2 linked regions of the Homo sapiens genome follow. The protein of the gene in region 2 interacts with the protein of the main gene of each other region in a biochemical or structural test. Each region holds a gene or a part of one and is shown on either strand. Other genes may lie near its edges. The genes, in order: VANGL2 and NLRP3.

Evidence for each region.
Region 1: the proteins of NLRP3 (region 2) and VANGL2 form a complex in vitro, tested with the Homo sapiens proteins (one study listed by BioGRID).

Annotation. Positions count from the first base shown.
Region 1 is NC_000001.11:160,416,696-160,425,748, reverse strand, and holds part of VANGL2 (vang-like protein 2), read right to left. Parts: intron 6,748-9,053; coding exon 6,140-6,747; intron 5,805-6,139; coding exon of another isoform or gene 5,756-5,804; exon of another isoform or gene 5,351-5,755; intron 5,339-5,350; coding exon 5,202-5,338; intron 4,698-5,201; coding exon 4,562-4,697; intron 1,698-4,561; coding exon 1,466-1,697; intron 632-1,465; coding exon 371-631; 3' UTR 1-370. UniProt on the Homo sapiens protein: Involved in the control of early morphogenesis and patterning of both axial midline structures and the development of neural plate. Plays a role in the regulation of planar cell polarity, particularly in the orientation of stereociliary bundles in the cochlea.
Region 2 is NC_000001.11:247,417,719-247,426,771, reverse strand, and holds part of NLRP3 (NACHT, LRR and PYD domains-containing protein 3), read right to left. Parts: intron 8,720-9,053; 5' UTR 7,978-8,719; coding exon of another isoform or gene 7,972-7,977; coding exon 7,695-7,971; intron 3,543-7,694; coding exon 3,423-3,542; intron 2,926-3,422; coding exon 1,173-2,925; intron 1-1,172. UniProt on the Homo sapiens protein: Sensor component of the NLRP3 inflammasome, which mediates inflammasome activation in response to defects in membrane integrity, leading to secretion of inflammatory cytokines IL1B and IL18 and pyroptosis.

The sequences.
Region 1 (9,053 bases), about 87 Mb from region 2:
GGGGCTCAGGAGGGGAAAGTACAATCAGCAGGGCCCTGTGCCCTTTCAGGAGAGACTGTAATCTGGGAAAAGACTAGGGAAAGAAGAGGGAGAGAGGCACTGATTCCTGCAGGGCCTAGAGTAATACAAAAGTTGTTGGTGAGGTGGGAGTCCTTCCCAGGTACTGTTGACAGCAGGATGGTCTCTCCAGGTTCACATGGGGTAAAATAAGGAAGAAGCGAGGAGAGAAGGTGGGGGTGCGTTAATTCAAGTAAAAAAAAAAGAGCAAGAAGAAGAAGGGTGGCAGGAATGTGGCTGGGCCTGAGAACCAAGCCCCCTCCCACCCCCTCAGGACCCCCCAGAGTTTCCCACTCCCCCTGCTGTTGCACAGTCACACTGAGGTCTCAGACTGCAGCCTCATGACAAACTTGTGTGACTTGGGATCCACAAATTCCTCGGAGAGTTTGAAGAATGGGACCTTCTTGGTGCTGACCACCAGGCTGAAGTCCTGGCGTTTTAAGAGGAAAACGATGCCATCCTTGAGGCCGTTGGTCACCGGCTCCTCGCTCACCAATGTCCACTGTTTGGCCAGCCAGCGTTCCTTGTGGTACTGGATGGTAGGTCCAGCCGCCAAGTATCGCTCCAAGAAGGCCTGAAGTGGAAAGAAGGGGCTGCATAAGAATCTCTGTCATCTACCCACGGTCCTTCATCCCCTAGGTCATAGTTTCCAAAGACAAGAAGGACGTCCCTGAGCTCACTCTATGCATATGAACTAGAACCTCAGAATGTTACAGCAGGAAGGGGCCTGAGATCATCTGCTTCAGACCCTCATTTTATAAATGAAGAAGCCGGAGTGCACAGGGGGATGTGGCTCATCAGGTAGGACTGAACTCGGCTCCCCTGACCCCCATCTGCTGCTCTTCTCCCTGCACCAGGCTGTGACCTGGGCAAGCCCTCCCTCATTCTTCCTTCCTTCCCACACAGCTTGTATGATTCGTGCCAAGCAGGTCTGCACCAGGAGGGAGCCAAAGGTGTCAAGGTTAAAGTGCAACATCTTTAGTTACCTGCTCACCAAGGGTGGCTCAGGGAAAGCAATTCTAGGAAGCTGGCAATAGAGTTGAAGGTGGGCAATGGCTCAAAATGACACAAAGCCAAGACCAGCTAGTGGAGGTGAAGAGGGTAATGGAGGTGAAAGTGGGCCTTTGGATCTGGTAATTCCGGAGCCCTCATAGAGATGAGAAATAAGTCTCAGCCATCCCCAAAATGGTCCTGAGGACTCCCTTCTCCTCATCTACCTAAAGACTTCACCCCACACAGATGGGGCAGGTGGAATAGGAATGAGAGAGAAGATTATAAAAAGGAGGTGGTGAGGAGAGAGAAATGAGGTGGACAGTGAGGAAAGTAGTGAGAGAATAAGGGAAAATGAAGGTGGGAAAGAAGAGGAGCTGGGGAAGGAGGAAGGATGCTGGCAGCAGGGCAGGCCTACCTTGGGCGTCATGTCATGCGTGATGCAGAATTCAAGGTGCTGCAGGATGCTCTCCATGGTGTGGTAGGGCTGCTGCTTGGTGGTCCGAAGGTACTTCTGCATGGCACGGGCCATGGATGCAAAGATGGCTTGGGCTGCCTCCCGGGGGTCCATCACCTCCCTGGGGTTTTTCTGCTCCTCTTCCTGCAGCCGCTTAATGTGAGTGAAGGCCTCCTCCACCGCCACTACAAGCCTAGGGGACAGGAGGGGACTGGGCCAGATGCCCACCTCTCTTTCCCCCACCCCACCCCTCTCCCCTAGCTCCAACACTCCAGCAGCCTGAATGAGGTCAGGCCTTTGTGCTCACCCAAAGTAATACAAAGCCAGAGGCAATAGTGCCTTTCTGCCACTGGGAACAGTAAACAGCCACAGAGTTCAGTGGGCCCAGCCCAGGGACTCAGAGGGCAAACCTAGTGTCAAACCCAGAGAGACAACTAGGAACTATGCTATAGGAAAGACAAAGCATTCCACCAAACTTTAAGGAAAACCTTCTTAAATAAGACCCCCAAATCATACTTCATTGGCTCAACAATTAATAGATATGATTACATCAAAATGACAGATTTCTGTTCAACCATGACAGCATGGGCAACATTAACTGACATCTGATGGAGCTGGGGAAAATATACACATCTAAAACCAACAAGGGATTCAGATCTAGAACATGCAAAGAATTTGCTACAATTTCTATCAAGAAGAAAAAGACAGGAAACCTAGAGAAAAAAGGGCAAAGGAGGTGAACAGAAAATTCACAAGAGGACTGAAAGGCTAAAAGATATACGAAGTAGTTACTGGCTAGCAATTAGAGAGATGCAAATGAAAATGTTAGTAAAATATTACTTTTCCATCAAAATGGAAAAAAGAAAGAAGGTAACTATAAACCAAATATTGGATAGGATGTTGGGAGTATTCCATGAACTACTATGCAGCAAAAAGATGCAACAAACTAGATGTACAGACAACTTGGATGAATCTCAAAAACACAGTGTTAAGGAGGAAGCAGGAAAAAAAAATCCATTTACATTAAAAGCATATAGATGGCCGGGTGTGGTGGCTCATGCCTATAATCCCAGCACTTTGGGAGGGTGAGACAGGTGGATCACCTGAGGTCAGGAGTTCAAGACCAGCCTGGCCAACATGGCAAAACCCCATCTTTACTAAAAATACAAAAATTAGCTGGGCATGCTGGTGTGCATCTGTAATCCCAGCTACTGGGGAGGCTGAGGCAGGAAAATTACTTGAACCCAGGAGGCGGAGGTTGCAGTGAGCTGAGATCATGCCACTGCACTCCAGCCTGGGGGACAGAGCAAGACTCCATCTCAATAAAAAAAAAAAAAAAAGCATACATACAGACACACACACCAACACCAACAAAGATCACTACACTAACACTAACTTTGCACAAGGATACATATAGCTTTTAAGGAAGTCAAACACACTCAACAGGATGCCTAAAATGTGGCGCTGGAGTGAAAGTGGGAACTGGAGGAAAAGAAGAAACAGAATAAAGAACCATGAAAAACTCTATAATGACAATATGTTAGAAGCTGAAAAGAGCAATTAATGCAATTATCTGCACTTCAAGTCCAAAAACCAAAATAAAAGCCCCCTGGCCTAAGAGCAGGACCAGCCTGAAGTGACAGGACAAAGAAAGAAAGTGAGGCCTTCTATGCAGAACCCAGGAACCTGAGTCATTTCAGATGGGACTCTGGGTATATAGGTGTGGATCTGTGTATGTCTATCATTTCTTCCTTTATTCTCTTGCTTCCCCTACATTTCTCAGTAAATTCCCTTTGAAAAGATCCTTTTATCTCAGGTAAACAAAGGAAAAAGTTTGCTCCTGGTTAAAAGCAAGGTAATGGGGAAAGGAAAGAGTCCTCTATGTGCCAAAAATGGTGGTGGCAGTACAGGAGATTGGATGACCCTGGTCAGGGCAGAAGATAAAGGGGTAGGGACATCACTGGTTTCCTTCCCAAGTCTCAGGCCATTTCCAAGACAATTAGAGACAGGTTGGAATGCCACAGAAATGGAGTTGGTGATCTTTGTTCTACTACAGGGGATGCCAGCCTCAAATAGGAACAAGGTAAGGGCTACCTCTTGCCCTTGAAGCCTGGAGTTCATGTGGGAGATGGGGCGGAGGCCAGGTGCGTGGTCAAGTCCTGAGGCACTCTGCTCCTCCCTCAGGGAACTCCCGACAGACCAAGATGGAACCCGGCAGAGTAGGCACCAAGTAAGATTCTTCAGGGTTGACTAAATTCACTTAATAATATGAATAGGGAAAGGGAGAAGCTAGGATGGCATTTAAGAATTTACCAAAATATAGGCAATAAAACGTCATTTTTTGAAGGCAACAAAAGCACCATCTGGTGAGTCCTCTCAAGATCTACTGGCAGGCAGGCTAGTCTAGCCTGAGTCCATGCTGTTGCAGGTAAAGCTCACATCCCTTTATTGGGTCCCTACCCCACTGTGGCAGGCAGAATTCAAAGATACCCTCCACTTCTACCAGACTCCCATCCCCTCATTAGACAACAATCTTGGTACATTTTGCAGATGTAATTAATGTGCCAAGTCAGTGGCCTTAAAAGAAGACTGTCCTTTAGGGCCTGATCTCATCACATGAGCTCTTTAAAATCAGCATTATCTCCAGCTGGTGGCAGAGGTCAGAGACCTGTTTCTGCTGGAAAAAAAAGTGCACTACCATCATGTAAACTGCCTATGGGGCTATGTGACAAGGCACTGAATTCTCCCCATAATAATGAGCTTGAAAGAGAAAGCATAGGCTCAGATGAGAGTCCTCTTGATTTCAGCCTGTGAGGCCTGAGCACAGCCTCCAGCCAGCCTGCACCTGACCCATGGAACTGGGAGATAATAAATGTGTGCTGTTTCACAGCTGCTAAGTTTATGGTAATCTGTTAGGGCAGCAACGGAAAACAAGCACACACCCCCAACTCATGTCATCATTGCCCTATATTTCCAGCAGTTACAGAAGTTCCTTGGTCTTCCTCTCCCCATTCACCCAACAAGCACCTCCTCTCCTCTTCTCCCCCAGGGACCCACCTGGCCCTCCTCTTGCGCACCCTTCGCTCATGCTCAGCCTCCTCATAGTAGTACTCATTGTGACTGTTGTCCCGCCTCCGAGCTGCCGCTGCAATCACAGCCCGAGACTGGCCAGTGGAGTTGTTGGTGCTGTTTTCTGCACAGGAACAGGATAGAGGAGATGGTCACATCAGAGTGTGGCCTCTCTTCCCACTCCAGGAGCTCTGGAGACAGCAGCCTGACATGTCCAGAAGAAGCTGTTCCCACCACCCAGCAATACCTCCTAATCCCAACCCTCCTGGCCACCTCTGGGAGAGGCCATAGGAAAGCAACAAGGAAGGCACTGGAAGCGCAAGAGTCCTGCAGTTGTTCCTCCCCAGTGCAGGGGGTTCTGCAGCTCCGAGAGCCAAAGGGCTTAGACCAGGGCTGATGAGAGACACAGAGGAGCCAGATCAGGGGACATGCCATAGCATAAAGGGACAGCAAGTAGGATGAGCAGCTAAGATCAGCCACCTGGAGTCAAGGGAAATGACTGAATAGAAGCGGCTAGAACATGGGCTAAGGAAAGGAAAAAGCAAGGGACAAAGGGTAAAAGAGAGGCGGGAACTTGGAGTCCTGCTTGGGAAGAGACAGGGAAGGGCAGAGGAGCAGGGCTGCTCACCCTCTCCGAGGGAATACACCTTGAAGCCAGACACTTTCTTGGCCAGGACGGACTTGGGCAGGTTGAGGAGGGCAGGGTTGTAGACAGGGAAGTCATGGTAATACTTCTCCAGGATCCACACTGCCACGCGCTGGATGCTGTGGGGGAGACGGCAGGAGGGGGTGGGAGAAGGGACAGACCAAGGGGCACAGGGGAAAGGGACACATTAGGGCAGGTTGGCAGGGCAGGAGAGGACACAGGACAGGGACAAGCTGCTTCCGAGAAGCCTGACTCCGGGCCTGAGGTCTACTTACCAGGCTCCCAAGCCTTTCCCAGGGCTGGGCCTGCCAGTCCCTCCCCACCATGCCAAAGCCTAGCAGAGAAAGGGCATTGGGCCTGGGTCCCCAGCCAAAGATCACCTCATCCCCATTCAGCGTTCCCCCAAGATCCTCTACAGGACCCAGGACGTGCCACTGATATTCTGTGTGGCCTCGAGGGGTAGCTTGTTTACTGGGAGCTGAAGAACTCTCCTCCTTATCTCTTTCTCTGGGGATCCCTCCTCTGGCCAGGTCACTTCACAGGCCACTCTGAGTGCTCACAAGAAGCTGCGCCTCCCAGAAAGGACTAGAAAAGGGATTCCAAAAAGCCCCTGTTTGTGCACCCCCCCATATTTCTTCCCTTTGGTCCATCCCCCTCTAATATTCCCTACCTCTAAATGCCTATTCATTCCCATCTCATAACTCCCAACTGATCTTGCCCCAAGACCGTGTACATGAACCTGCCTATCAAGCAGCAAACATTGGTGAAAACCTACTTGGTGCAAAGTACTCAACTCCCTCCCACACAACCCTCCAAGCCCATCACCTCCAGCCCACCATCATACCCTCCCACCCTAGCAGTCACTCCACATCCTCCCATGCCCTTTCCCTCCCAACCCTTCTCCAGCCGTGGGCTAGTACCTGAGATGGCCAACGTTGTAGAAGCGGCTGGCGCCGTCGGTGGAGCGCACGACCTTGAGCGTGAACTGAGGCTGGAGCTGGCGCAGCTCCAGCAGGACCACGGCCAGGTAGTGCACGAAAAGAAGGGCGTCCACCAGCGACACGGCGAACTGCACCACGCCCTGGTAGCTGCGCTCCCGAGCATCCAGGATGCGCACACCATAGAAGAGCCAGTAGGAGACCACGAGCAGGAAAACCAGCACCATAAGCAGGGCACGCAGCACAAAGACGCGGGGCAGCGAGGCCTTGGGCCGGCGGAAGAACAGAGCCCAGCTGCCCAGTAGCAGGATGAGCAGCTTGAAGGCGACAGAGATGAAGAGGCCCTCGCAGGCCGTCCCGCAAGGCTCCAGCTCCTCCCGCCACAGCAGTGGGGGCAGCAGCAGGAAGGCCAGAGGCGTGAGGAAAGACAGCAGTGCCAGGGTGGCCCCCGCTGCCACACCCAGGTGACGGGAGCAGTCCAGAGGGACACTGTCCTCCATGTCCTTGGCGATGCGTGTGAGGTCATCATGGGAGATGCTGTGCTCTGAGGTGCCCGTTACTACTGTCGTCGTTTCCCCCCAGTTGTCATCCTACAGGCAGAAGGGGGCCAGCCACACAATAAGGAGGAAAGGATAAGAAGAGGAAGAGGAGGGAAACAGGAGAAAGGGTGAGGGGACAGGAGACAGAGAAGAACACATGGGAAAGGAGAAGGCAGAAAGAAGAGAGGGTAATCAACAAATACGCAACCATCAAAGTATTTACTGAGCTCCAATGTGTGTCAAAGTCTGGCCTCTGCAGATGGCCAAATCCAAGACCCGAGCCCTCGGGGAGCTGGACACTGGTCAGTGAGAGAGGAAAAAACCACACATGCGGCAATGACCCTCAGAGCAGACAGCACAGGACAAATGCTGAAGATGCTGCTCAGGCAGTGACTGGGATCCAAGGGCAAACTCGCCAAGCAAAGCAGGCAGGCTTCCAGAAACCGTGGGACCTGAGCTGATCCTTGGGGGAAGGGGGCTCCAAGGAAGATGTTCTCAATCCCAGATGCACACATTAGAACACTTAGGGAAGTTGGAAAATAATGCTAATTATTGGAGAGTGCAATCTGCTTGTGAACCTTTAAAAAAAAAAAACAAAAAACTCCCCAGATGATTGTAATGGTCATCCAAGATTGAGAATCACTGAACTAAATGATTTCTAAGGGCTGGCTGGCTACTTAAAATGTGATCTGTGGACCAGCGGTGTGGACATCACCTGGGAGCTTGTTAGAAAGGCGGAACCTCAGGCCCACCGCATGTTTACTGAACCAAATCTGCATTTTAACAAGATCCACATGAATCACTCAAACATTAACATTAATTCTGGAAGTCCTGCTGGGCACGGTGGCTCACGCCTGTAATCCCAGCACTTTGGGAGGCCGAGGTGGGCAGATCGCCTGAGGTCGGGAGTTCGAGACCAGCCTGACCAACATGGAGAAATCCCATCTCTACTAAAAACACACACACACAAAAAATTAGCTGGGTGTGGTGGCACATGCCTGTAATCCCAGCTACTCGGGAGGCTGATGCAGGAGAATCGCTTGAACCCAGGAGGAGGAGGTTGTGGTGAGCAGAGATCGTGCCATTGCACTCCAGCCTGGGCAACAAGAGCGAAACTCCATCTCAAAAAAAAAAAAAAAAAAAATTATGGAAGTCCTATCTAAGTTCCTTCCAGCATGCCATGATTTTGGCAGAAGCTAGAGGAGGAGCCTCCAGGGCAGGAATGGCATGAACTGAGGCACCCAAGGGCTATGAGAGCAGAGGATCCCTGTGCAGAAGCACAGCAAGGTGCAACCAGGAAGGTAAGGCAGACAGCAGCCAGGCAGGGCTTGTGCAGGCCACGCTGCAGTGCTGGGCTGGGCAATAAGCACCTGTTCTCCAGGCATGGAGAGCCACTGAAGGAGTAAACCTGATCAAAGCAGCACAGAGAAGAACAGAAGACCCCAGGGGTAAAGGGGTGAAGGCGTGAAGGACACTGTGCAGACTCAAGGCCACTCTGGGTCTCTGGTCTGCAAGGCCACCTCTGCTGGGCCATCTAAATGTCTACAGTGCAGAGGCTACCTGTCTCTGGAGGCAAGAAGGTGGCCAGGCTGAGGTCCCCAGGTGTCCCTCTAAGTGTGGTCTGCTCAAGCTGTTTCTCTGCAGTGGCTGGAGGCCATCCCACGGAGGAGTCCCAAGACCACCAGCTGCCTTCAGCACCCACCCTTCGCTCCTGGGACAGCCTGGGGATATGGAATCACAACCTGACACCCAGGAGGTTGAGGTTACAGGATGAAGGCAGCCCGACAGCACCAGTGATTAGGGAGGTTGAGGAACCTCCTCTCTACAGGATGGGGAACGAGTCTGATGTGAAGATAGAAAGCAGATGCACTGACTGCCTTCAGCTCAAAGCCCTGGGTCTGCTCCCCGCCCTCTGACCCCTAGACATACTGCCCACCCCCTCCAAGGACCAAGGGCTTGGGATCTCCTCCCCAGTAGCAGGTGAGCTGGTCATGTCTCAGGGTCACTTCAAGAACTCAGGAGGCCAGGCCCCAGGAAGAAGGGATTGGGAGAGAGGGAAAAAGAACATTTCCTTCAGGTATTGACCTGCTCCCAAGGCCCAGGAATTCCCAATGTCAGCCACAGAGATTTCTTCTGAGGAAAAAGGAGCTGGGAATCTCCAGCCCCCAAAGATGATCCCAAGGGGAATGAGACTTGGGCAACCTCAGTGTCACCTAAAATCCTGCCTCTGCCCTATTCCAGGACTGTGTTCTGCCCACTGTCCTCCCTACCAGGTGAGCACAGTGGGCAGCAGAGGTTAGAATAGAAAACCTGCTCACCCCTGTCCTGGAGAACTCTCTCCTGGGGTCCCTGCTCCA
Region 2 (9,053 bases):
TGGATACTCTGCAAGTTTCCTTGTCAGAGCCCATGACCCCCTCCCCGACATCTGCACTTGTTTCCGGACTGTCCCACAGCCAGACCTCAAGTCCCTGTGACCAGGACCTGGGTCTTCACCACCACTGCGGCCCTGTGGGCAGTCAGTCCTTCATGGCCAAACCATGACTAGGAAGGTGGTCCTGGTCATGGTAATGTCAACGGATCAAGAAAGCTGAAACTCATTGTTGCCTGTGGAAGGGCCAAGCCTCCTGTTTCCCTTAATTTTGCCCCACGTCAAGTGTCTTCTATCCAGGCTAAACTCACACATCACAGGGTGGCCACCTTCCTACAACCACTGTGGGTGGTCCTTCTGCAGGAGGCACTGAACGATAAACCCAAAAGGGACTCAGAAGTCAGGTGACTCAACCACTTCATTGCACAGACTTGGCCACTAGCTTCCAACCACCCAGCAAGTGTGTGAACAGACCCGAAAACGGGGTTTTGGCAATGCCCAGTGCAGAGCAACATGGGGGCCTAGAAAGAGGGTCTCCACATTTCTGCTCTATTTCCCTTGATTTACCTTCATCATGTTTTTTTCCAAGGAAACTGTGTCTCTCTCCACTGTCACCTGCACACACTTTTTCTCAGACTGCATTCATGATTTGGCTCATACCAGTCTTCAGTGCAGAATTCCTTTAATTTCTTCTCTATGCGCCCAGGTCCCACCATTCCTTAAAGGAGGCTTAGATTGCACATTTCTAAGAAACATCCCCCCAGCCTCCAGCTCTGAGGCCCTCTGTCCCCTCGCTCCTGGGACACAGACTCTCTGGCATTGTTCTGCCCCACAGACATTGACTGACTCTTAGGCACTAGTGCTCCAAGTAGCTTACAAGAAATTTCAGTTGACAAATATTTGTAGGCAATCCTACATCCTACTTAATACCTTGTGCTAAACTGGCATTCCCCAAACATTTGTTCCTTGTTTTATTTTTTTTTTCCTCATCCCATTTATCCACCTACCATACATCAATCTTTGCTCATGAAGGAGTCTCAAACAGACAGTGGTGGCATTATGATGTAGCTGTGGCAACAGTATTTGGAAGATAGTTGAAAAGAGATGAGAGGAGGCAAGCGCCAAGAAGAAGCTGGCGAGGAAGCAGGAGGAAGCACCTGGAAGCCGAGTTTCCTTACCCATGAGAACAGGCAGCATGAGAGGAGCTTGGGAGGACACACTGCACCATATCAAGGTGTCGGCCTTCCTTTTCCTCCTCCTCTTCCTCCTTGGGCATGTTATGGAGAAACCCCAGGGACAGTGACTCCACCCGATGACAGTTCTCAATGCAAAAGGAAGAAACCATGTGGTCCATTCTGGTGGAGAGATTGATCTCAATCTTGGGGAAATAGTCCATGGCCCTTTGCACGAAGTCCTCCTCCTGCATCTCGTACAAACAGTAGAACAATTCCAGCTGGCTGGGCTGGATCTGCAGCTTTTTAGCTTTGGCTTTCACTTCAATCCATTTCAGCAGCTCCAGCCTGATTTGCTGAGAGATCTTGCAACTTAATTTCTTCTCCAAGTAGGAGGTCCTCTCCTGGTTTACCAGGCCAAAGAGGAAACGTACAACAAAAATCAAATACCCCTTTTCGAATTTGCCATAGTTTTCCAGAAGGACTGTCACGTCTCGGCTGGGAAGCTTCAAACGACTCCCTGGAACGTTCGTCCTTCCTTCCTTTTCCTCTTCCAGCAGGTAGTACATGGCGGCAAAGAACTCCTGGAAAGTCATGTGGATGAAGCTGTAGAACTTCTCGCAGTCCACTTCCTTTTGGAACAGGTTCATCCTCAGGAAAGCAGACACATCCGCCTTCTGCAGTCCATGATTCCTGAGGTCGGACTCCTCAAACAGGATTTTCTGGTTCCAGATTCCATCTGCAGCCAAAGAGCAGAGCCCCCAGAGGTGGGCGCAGAGGCCGTGCTCCTGGCTCCCTCCCCGGGGCTGCAGCAAACTGGAAAGGAAGAAGACGTACACCGCGGTGGTGGTCTTGGATGTCTGGGCAAGGCTCTTGCCACTCTCCATCTGCTGTTTCAGTCCAGTGCACACGATCCAGCAGACCAGGGGGATGAAGCACATGGTGAAGAGGACCTCGTTCTCCTGAATCAGACTGAAGGCTGCCCTGGCTTGGGCCTCATCAGAGAAGTACTTGAAGAAGTACTCTTTCCTTTTGGCCTCGGAGAAACCCAGGATCTCCACATGCCGAGGATGGTCCAGCAAGTGCTGCAGTTTCTCCAGGGCCACAGGTCTCGTGGTGATGAGCAGAGAGGCCTCGGGAAGCAGCTTCTTTCTGATGAGGCTGCTCAGGAGAATGTCTCCCCGCTCGGCCTTCTGCCAGTCAGTGCAGAGCGGTCCTATGTGCTCGTCAAAGGCACCTTGCAGCTCATCGAAGCCGTCCATGAGGAAGAGGATTCTGGAGGGTTTTCTCACGATCTTGTGGATGGGTGGGTTTGGGTCGGGGCAGCAGCTCATGATCAGGTCCCCCAGGCTCCTCTGTGTCACAAGGCTCACCTCTCGACAGTGGATATAGAACAGATAGTCAAACCTGTCTTGGTAGAGTGTCCCCGACGCCCAGTCCAACATCATCTTCCTGGCCAGGATTGTTTTCCCAATCCCTGCCGCCCCCTGGAACACCACGGTGTGCACAGGCTCAGAATGCTCATCATCGGGGTCAAACAGCAACTCCATCTTAATGGGACTCACGGGGCTCTCACACGTCTTGGTCTTGCCGATGGCCAGAAGCTCCTGCTCCCTCTCCTGCTGGCTCCGGTGCTCCTTGATGAGACGCAGTCGTGTGTAGCGTTTGTTGAGGCTCACACTCTCACCCAGACGGGCATTCCTGTCTTCAATGCACTGGAATCTGCTTCTCACGTACTTTCTGTACTTCTTACGGTAATCTACGGCAAAGACAGGAAGTTAGGGGGAAAGTATACACACATCCACCTGAGATGCGCTCTCAGCTGGGGCCTGTCATCGGAAGCGAGTGGTAACCGGAATGGAGAAATGGAAGGTGCAGCTCCTCCCCACTGGGTAGGAAAGGTGCCGAGAATCTCTGGTGTCAAGTTTTTAAGATACACAGCTGAGCAGAAGGCCCATCTCTATGTGTAGCTACCAGCCCAAAGATCATTTGAATCAATCTTATTCCTTTAAGTAATCTGCATCCTATGCCTTATCAAACTTGAAACGCTTAATCACCGCCGCTGGCTCTGGGACTGCAAGAGCCACACAAACATGAATTTGTTTCTTCAACTGACAATGGATTTCCTGAGACAGGCCTTTGCATTCCAAAGAGCAGGAACCTATAGTATGGCCAAGTTACCCAGCTGCTCAGCTTCCCAGAGCCTCCTGAACCAGGTCTTAAAACTCAACTAGAAGCACCACCCCAGTCGCTTACCTTTCTTCATTTTACAAATAGAGATTCTCGAAAGGTACTCCAGTAAACCCATCCACTCCTCTTCAATGCTGTCTTCCTGGCATATCACAGTGGGATTCGAAACACGTGCATTATCTGAACCTAAAAGGGAAAAAAAAGGTGTCAAAACCCAGAACTATTATCACAGAGGATGCAATTGAAACCTGGCCTAATATTTGGCATGAGAGAGGAGACCCCAAACATCCCCCAAATCAAAACATGGCTCTGAGTTGCAGAGGACAGGTATCCAGTCAAAAGTCTGGTTGGGAGCATTTCTGCACTCCTAGTTTCAAAACAACTTCTGCTGTCCACCTGCCAAGCATGTGTTCCCACTGTCCCCAGTCTCAGAATCTCTTCCTCAGGCCTGGAAATCAATCAGCAAACATGCGAAGCAGGCTAAGTTTCTTTTACCCTCGTTTGCTTTTGCCTGCCCCTGGCAGCCTGATTGTGAGGGCATCTCCAAGCTCTCCTATATCCCCAACACGGCTGTGGGCTAAGAAAGGTCACCCTTCCCTGACCGCAGTTCCCTGCAATCCATTTTACACACGTCTTCTATTGTCAAGTCTAGATGTCTGGTTCTTCAAGAGTGAGAACGACCAGTCTATTTCGTGCCTAATCTAGTGGTTGGGAATCCTGGCTGACTTTAGAATCACCCAGGAAGCTTTAAAAATATGGACTTCAGGACTGCACGCCCAGAGGTTCTTTTTCAGTCCCTCTGAGGTGAGGCCCAGGAACCATCACATACTAAAAGCTCCCAGGTGATTCCAACATGCATCTGTGTTGAGAATCACAAATCCAAACAGTCACTAGATAGCATATCTTAAGAAGGCATTCTATAGGAGAAATTCAGGTTAGGTAAAACAAGAGTTAGTCACTAGGGGAAATATATAAGACAGATAACTTCAGGTGGGCAGGAATCTACAAGTAACATAAATGATTTTTTTTTTTTTTTTGAGACAGGGCCTCACTCTATTGCCCAGGCTGGAGTGCAATGACACAATCATGGCTCCCTGCAGCCTCAACCTCCTGGGCTCAAGTGATCCTCCCACCTCAGCCTCCAGAACAGCTGGGACTATTGACACGTGCCACCACACCTAACTAATGTTTGCATTTTTTGTAGAGACAGGTTCTCACTATGTTGCCCAGGCTGGTCTCAAACTCCTGGGCTCAAGCAATCCTCCCATCTTGGCCTCCTGAAGTGCTGGGATTACAGGCATAAGCCACTGCGCCCAGCCCATAAAAGACCTCTGACAGCTGTCTACTTGGTAACCATATCACAAAATAAAATCCAAAAAATCTAAGCCAAAACCAAAATCTTATTCTTTTTTTTTAAGAGACAGAGTCTTGCTTTGTTTCCAAAGCTGGAGGGCAGTGGCATGGTCATAGCTCACTCCAGCCTGGAACTCCTGAGCTCAAGTGATGCACCCACTTCAGCCACCTGAGTAACTGGGACTCAGGTAGGAGCCATGACAGTAAATTAGCCAAAGTCTATTACCTAAAACCTAACCCCACCCCAGGAAACAAACAAACAAACTTCTAACCCTAGTTATAACTTTTCTGCCTCAAAATCCAGATATGGAAGCAAAGACGGTGTAGTGGTTAAGAGCCAGGCTTTGATCAGAGACATGCCCTGCTTTTTACCCCAGCTCTGGTTATGGCTAGAAATAAACCATGGGCCAGTTAGGATCTCTTCCAGGCTCACCTCATTCACTTGCAGGAGGGATAATACCAGAAGCTGTTTCATGGGTTTCTTGAATGTGCCATAAAATCCATAAAAACTGCTTAGCAAAGTACTTCTACAGTTGTGATTATGACACTTTCATTTGGGTATGTGAGTATATAAGTACTGACACAATGATAATTGCTTTATTTACTTAGAGATGAGGTCTCCCTATGTTGCTCAGGCTGGTTTTGAGCTCCTGGGCTCAAGCGATCCTCCTGCCTTAGCCTCCTGAGTAGCTGGGACTACAGGTGAGAGCCATTGCAGCAACTGGTTTCTGACCTCCCCCGGCTGCACACTGCTGTCTGTTTCCCCAGTGTCATTACACCCACACTGCTGCCCTGCCTTAACATGTGTCTCCCTATCCACTGACTCATTTGTACTCCTCCTTCCCATCACCACCAGCTCTACATCATCATCCTGCAATACCCTGCCCTTCTCTGAGCCCTACCTTTGCCTAGAACACAAGACAAAAGAAAGAACCTTATCCCCAATGTGTACATGGGGATTAAGAGAATTTCTTTTACATTCCAATTCCCAAAGTGGTGGTGAAAGGAAAGGCTTCTGCCCCAAACTCCACGGTTCTTCAAGGAGAGAGGCTGCCCTCTGGGCCATAGGAAGCAGAGGCCCAAGCCTGCTGACCACACAGCAGATACTGGACAAAACATGTGGTCTGAGAAGCTGGATGGAGAATTGGAGGCAGGTCTAGGCACTGCTGAGATTCAGATAAAGAGGGACTAATCATGGCAGGTGCCCAGGGGGTAGGTACAGTCTGCATCAGCTTTTTAAAGGAGTTAGAGAAAGCAAACAGTTTGCCTCCACCTTCTCATAGCACTACCGTGAGAGGGGAAAAGAGAAAAAACCAAGACAATACAAGAAAAAAAAATTTTTTTTTGAAACAGGGTCTTGCTCTTTAGCCCAGGCTGGAGTGCCGTGGTGCAATCTCAGCTCACTGCAACCTCCACTCCCCATGTTCAAGCAATTCTCCTACCTCAGCCTCCTGAGTAGCTGGGATTACAGGTGCCCACCACCACACCCGGCTAATTTTTTTTGTATTTTTAGTAGAGATGGGGTTTTGCCATGTTGGCCAGGCTGGTGTTGAACTCCTGACCTCAGGTGATCCACCCACCTCAGCCTCACAAAGTGCTGGAATTACAGGCATGAGCCACCATGCCCGGCCATGATTTAAAAAAAAAAAAATCATACTAACTTCTGTGCATCAAAGGACACAGTTAACCAAATGAAAAGACAACCCACAGAATAGGAGAAAATATTTGTAAATCATATATCTGATATGGGGTTAATATCTAGAATACATAAAGAACTCCTACAAGGCAACAACAAAAGCCAAACCTGGTCTGAAAATGAGAAAAGAACTTGAACAGAACTTTCTCTGAAGAAGCTCTATAAATGGCCAACAAGCAGTGAAAATGTGCTCAGCATCACTTATCATTAGGGAAACGGAAATCAAAACTACAGTGAGATACCACCTCACACTCATTAGAATGGCTACTATAAAAAAGAAAAAATAAATAAAAATAACGTGTTCTTAGGATATGGAGAAATTGGAACCCTTGTGTGCTGTTGGTGGGAAATGGTGCAGATGGTATCTAAAACAGTAGAGCAGTTCTTCAAAATATTTAACAGAATTACCGTATGATTCAGAAATTTCACTTCTGAGTATATACCCCAGAGAATTCAAAGCAGGGTCTTGAAGAGATATTTGTGCACCAACACTCATAACAGCATTAACAATAACAAAAAGGTAGAAGTAATCCAGGTGTTCATCAACAGATAACTAAACAAAATTTGGTATATGGTACCATGGAGTATTTATACAGTCTTTTTTAAAGGAAGGGAATTCCGACACATGCTACAACATAGTTGAACCCGGAGGACATTATGCTGAGTGAAATAAACTACTCATAAAGGAAAAAATGCTGTATGTTTCCACTTATATGAGGTACCCAGAGTAGTAAGATTCACAGAGATGGCAAATAGAATGGTGGTTACCAGGGCTGGGAGAATGAGGCAATGAGGAGTTATCATTCAATGGGTGAGGAGTTTCAGTTTTGCAAGATGAAAACAGTTCTGGAGACTGGTTGCACAATGTGAGTGTACCTAACACTACTGAACTGTACATTTAAAAATTATTACGGCCGGGCGCGGTGGCTCACACCTGTAATTCCAGCACTTTGCGAGGCCGAGGCGGGTGGATCACCTGAGGTCGGGAGTTTGAGACCAACCTGACCAACATGGAGAAACCCCATCTCTACTAAAAATACAAAATTAGCCGGGCGTGGAGGTGCAATGCCTGTAATCCCAGCTACTTGGGAGGCTGAGGCAGGAAAATCGCTTGAACCCGGGAGGTGGAGGTTGCAGTGAGCCAAGATCTCACCATTGCACTCCAGCCTGGGCAACAAGAGCAACTCCGTCTCAAAAAAAAATATATATATATATATATATAAAGATGGAAAATTGTACACTATGTGCACTTGGCCACAATTTTTTTTAAAAGTCTTCCTTCCACTCACCCCACTTCGGCTCATCTCTTTTTGCTTTCTCATAAAGGTCTCTCCTGTTGATCGCAGCGAAGATCCACACGGCCATGGCCCACGCCTTCTCCTCCCCATTGAAGTCGATCATTAGCGTGGCTAGATCCACATGGTCTGCCTTCTCTGTCTGACCCCTCGGGAGGGGGATGCAGCCCTTCTGGGGAGGATAGTCCTCTAAGTGCATCTTAAATTTCTTCAAGTCCACATCCTCCAGGTCCTCCAGGTACCTGGCCAGCTTGCAGCGGGTGCTTGCCATCTTCATCTGCAGCTGTTTTCAGGGTCCTTAGGCTTCGGTCCACACTAAGATACCAGGCAGTGAACACGGCACACGGATGAGTCTTTTTTAAAGTCTCCACTTTGAGAGATATAAATTATCAAAAACTCAGCAAACAGAAAGAAAAAAATGTCACATGACTGTAACAAGTCAAAATCTTTAATTTTGAAAAGTTAGCCAAGGCCGGGCACAGTGGCTCACGCCTGTAATCCCAGCACTTTGAGAGGCCAAGGCAGGCAGATCACCTGAGCTGAGGAATTCAAGACCAGCCTGGCCAACATGGCAAAACTGTGTCTCTACTAAAAGTACAAAAATGAGCCGGGTGTGGTGGCGGGCGCCTGTAATCCCAGCTACTCAGGAAGTTGAGGTAGGAGAATTGATTGAACCCGGGAAGTGGAGGCTGCAGTGAGCCAAGATCACGCCACTGCACTCCAGCCTAGGCGACACAGCAAGACTCCATCTCAAAAAAAAAAAAGTTAGCCAAATGCTTACCAGAAAGTTCTCCTGTTGGCTCGATCCAGGAGTGTGTCCTGAGCCATGGAAGAAAGGTTTCCCTATGGAGGGAAAAATATGCAAACAAATCCATAAACAGGATTGTATTACAGTTTACGGTGAACAACCACTTCACGATGCCATCTTGACCCATCAGCAAGAAAATTTTTGTCCCGTTGATTACGGGGCTATGACATTGGACAAACTCTTCACTATTCCTCAACTTCAGTTTCCTCATCTACAAAATGAGAAAGCAGAAGAGAATGTTTTCAGTTCCTCCAAACTGAAGGCTCTGGCTCTTTGCTTCTGTTTTTGTGAGGGAAGAGGGATGAGAGACAATAGAAGGAGAAGGCCAGGAGGTGAGTAAGTGTGTTGATAACAGAACAGGACGTGGCTAGGGAGAGAGGAGAGAGAACATAAAAGCTTGCAGAGGAGGGGACAGTCTTTGACTGCACTTCTATCAACCAGTGGATTGAAGTGAGATGAAGCTGGGAGTGCATAATGGAGAATAATAAAAACATACATCCCTGTAATCCCAGCACTTTGGGAGGCCGAGGTGGGCGGATCACCTG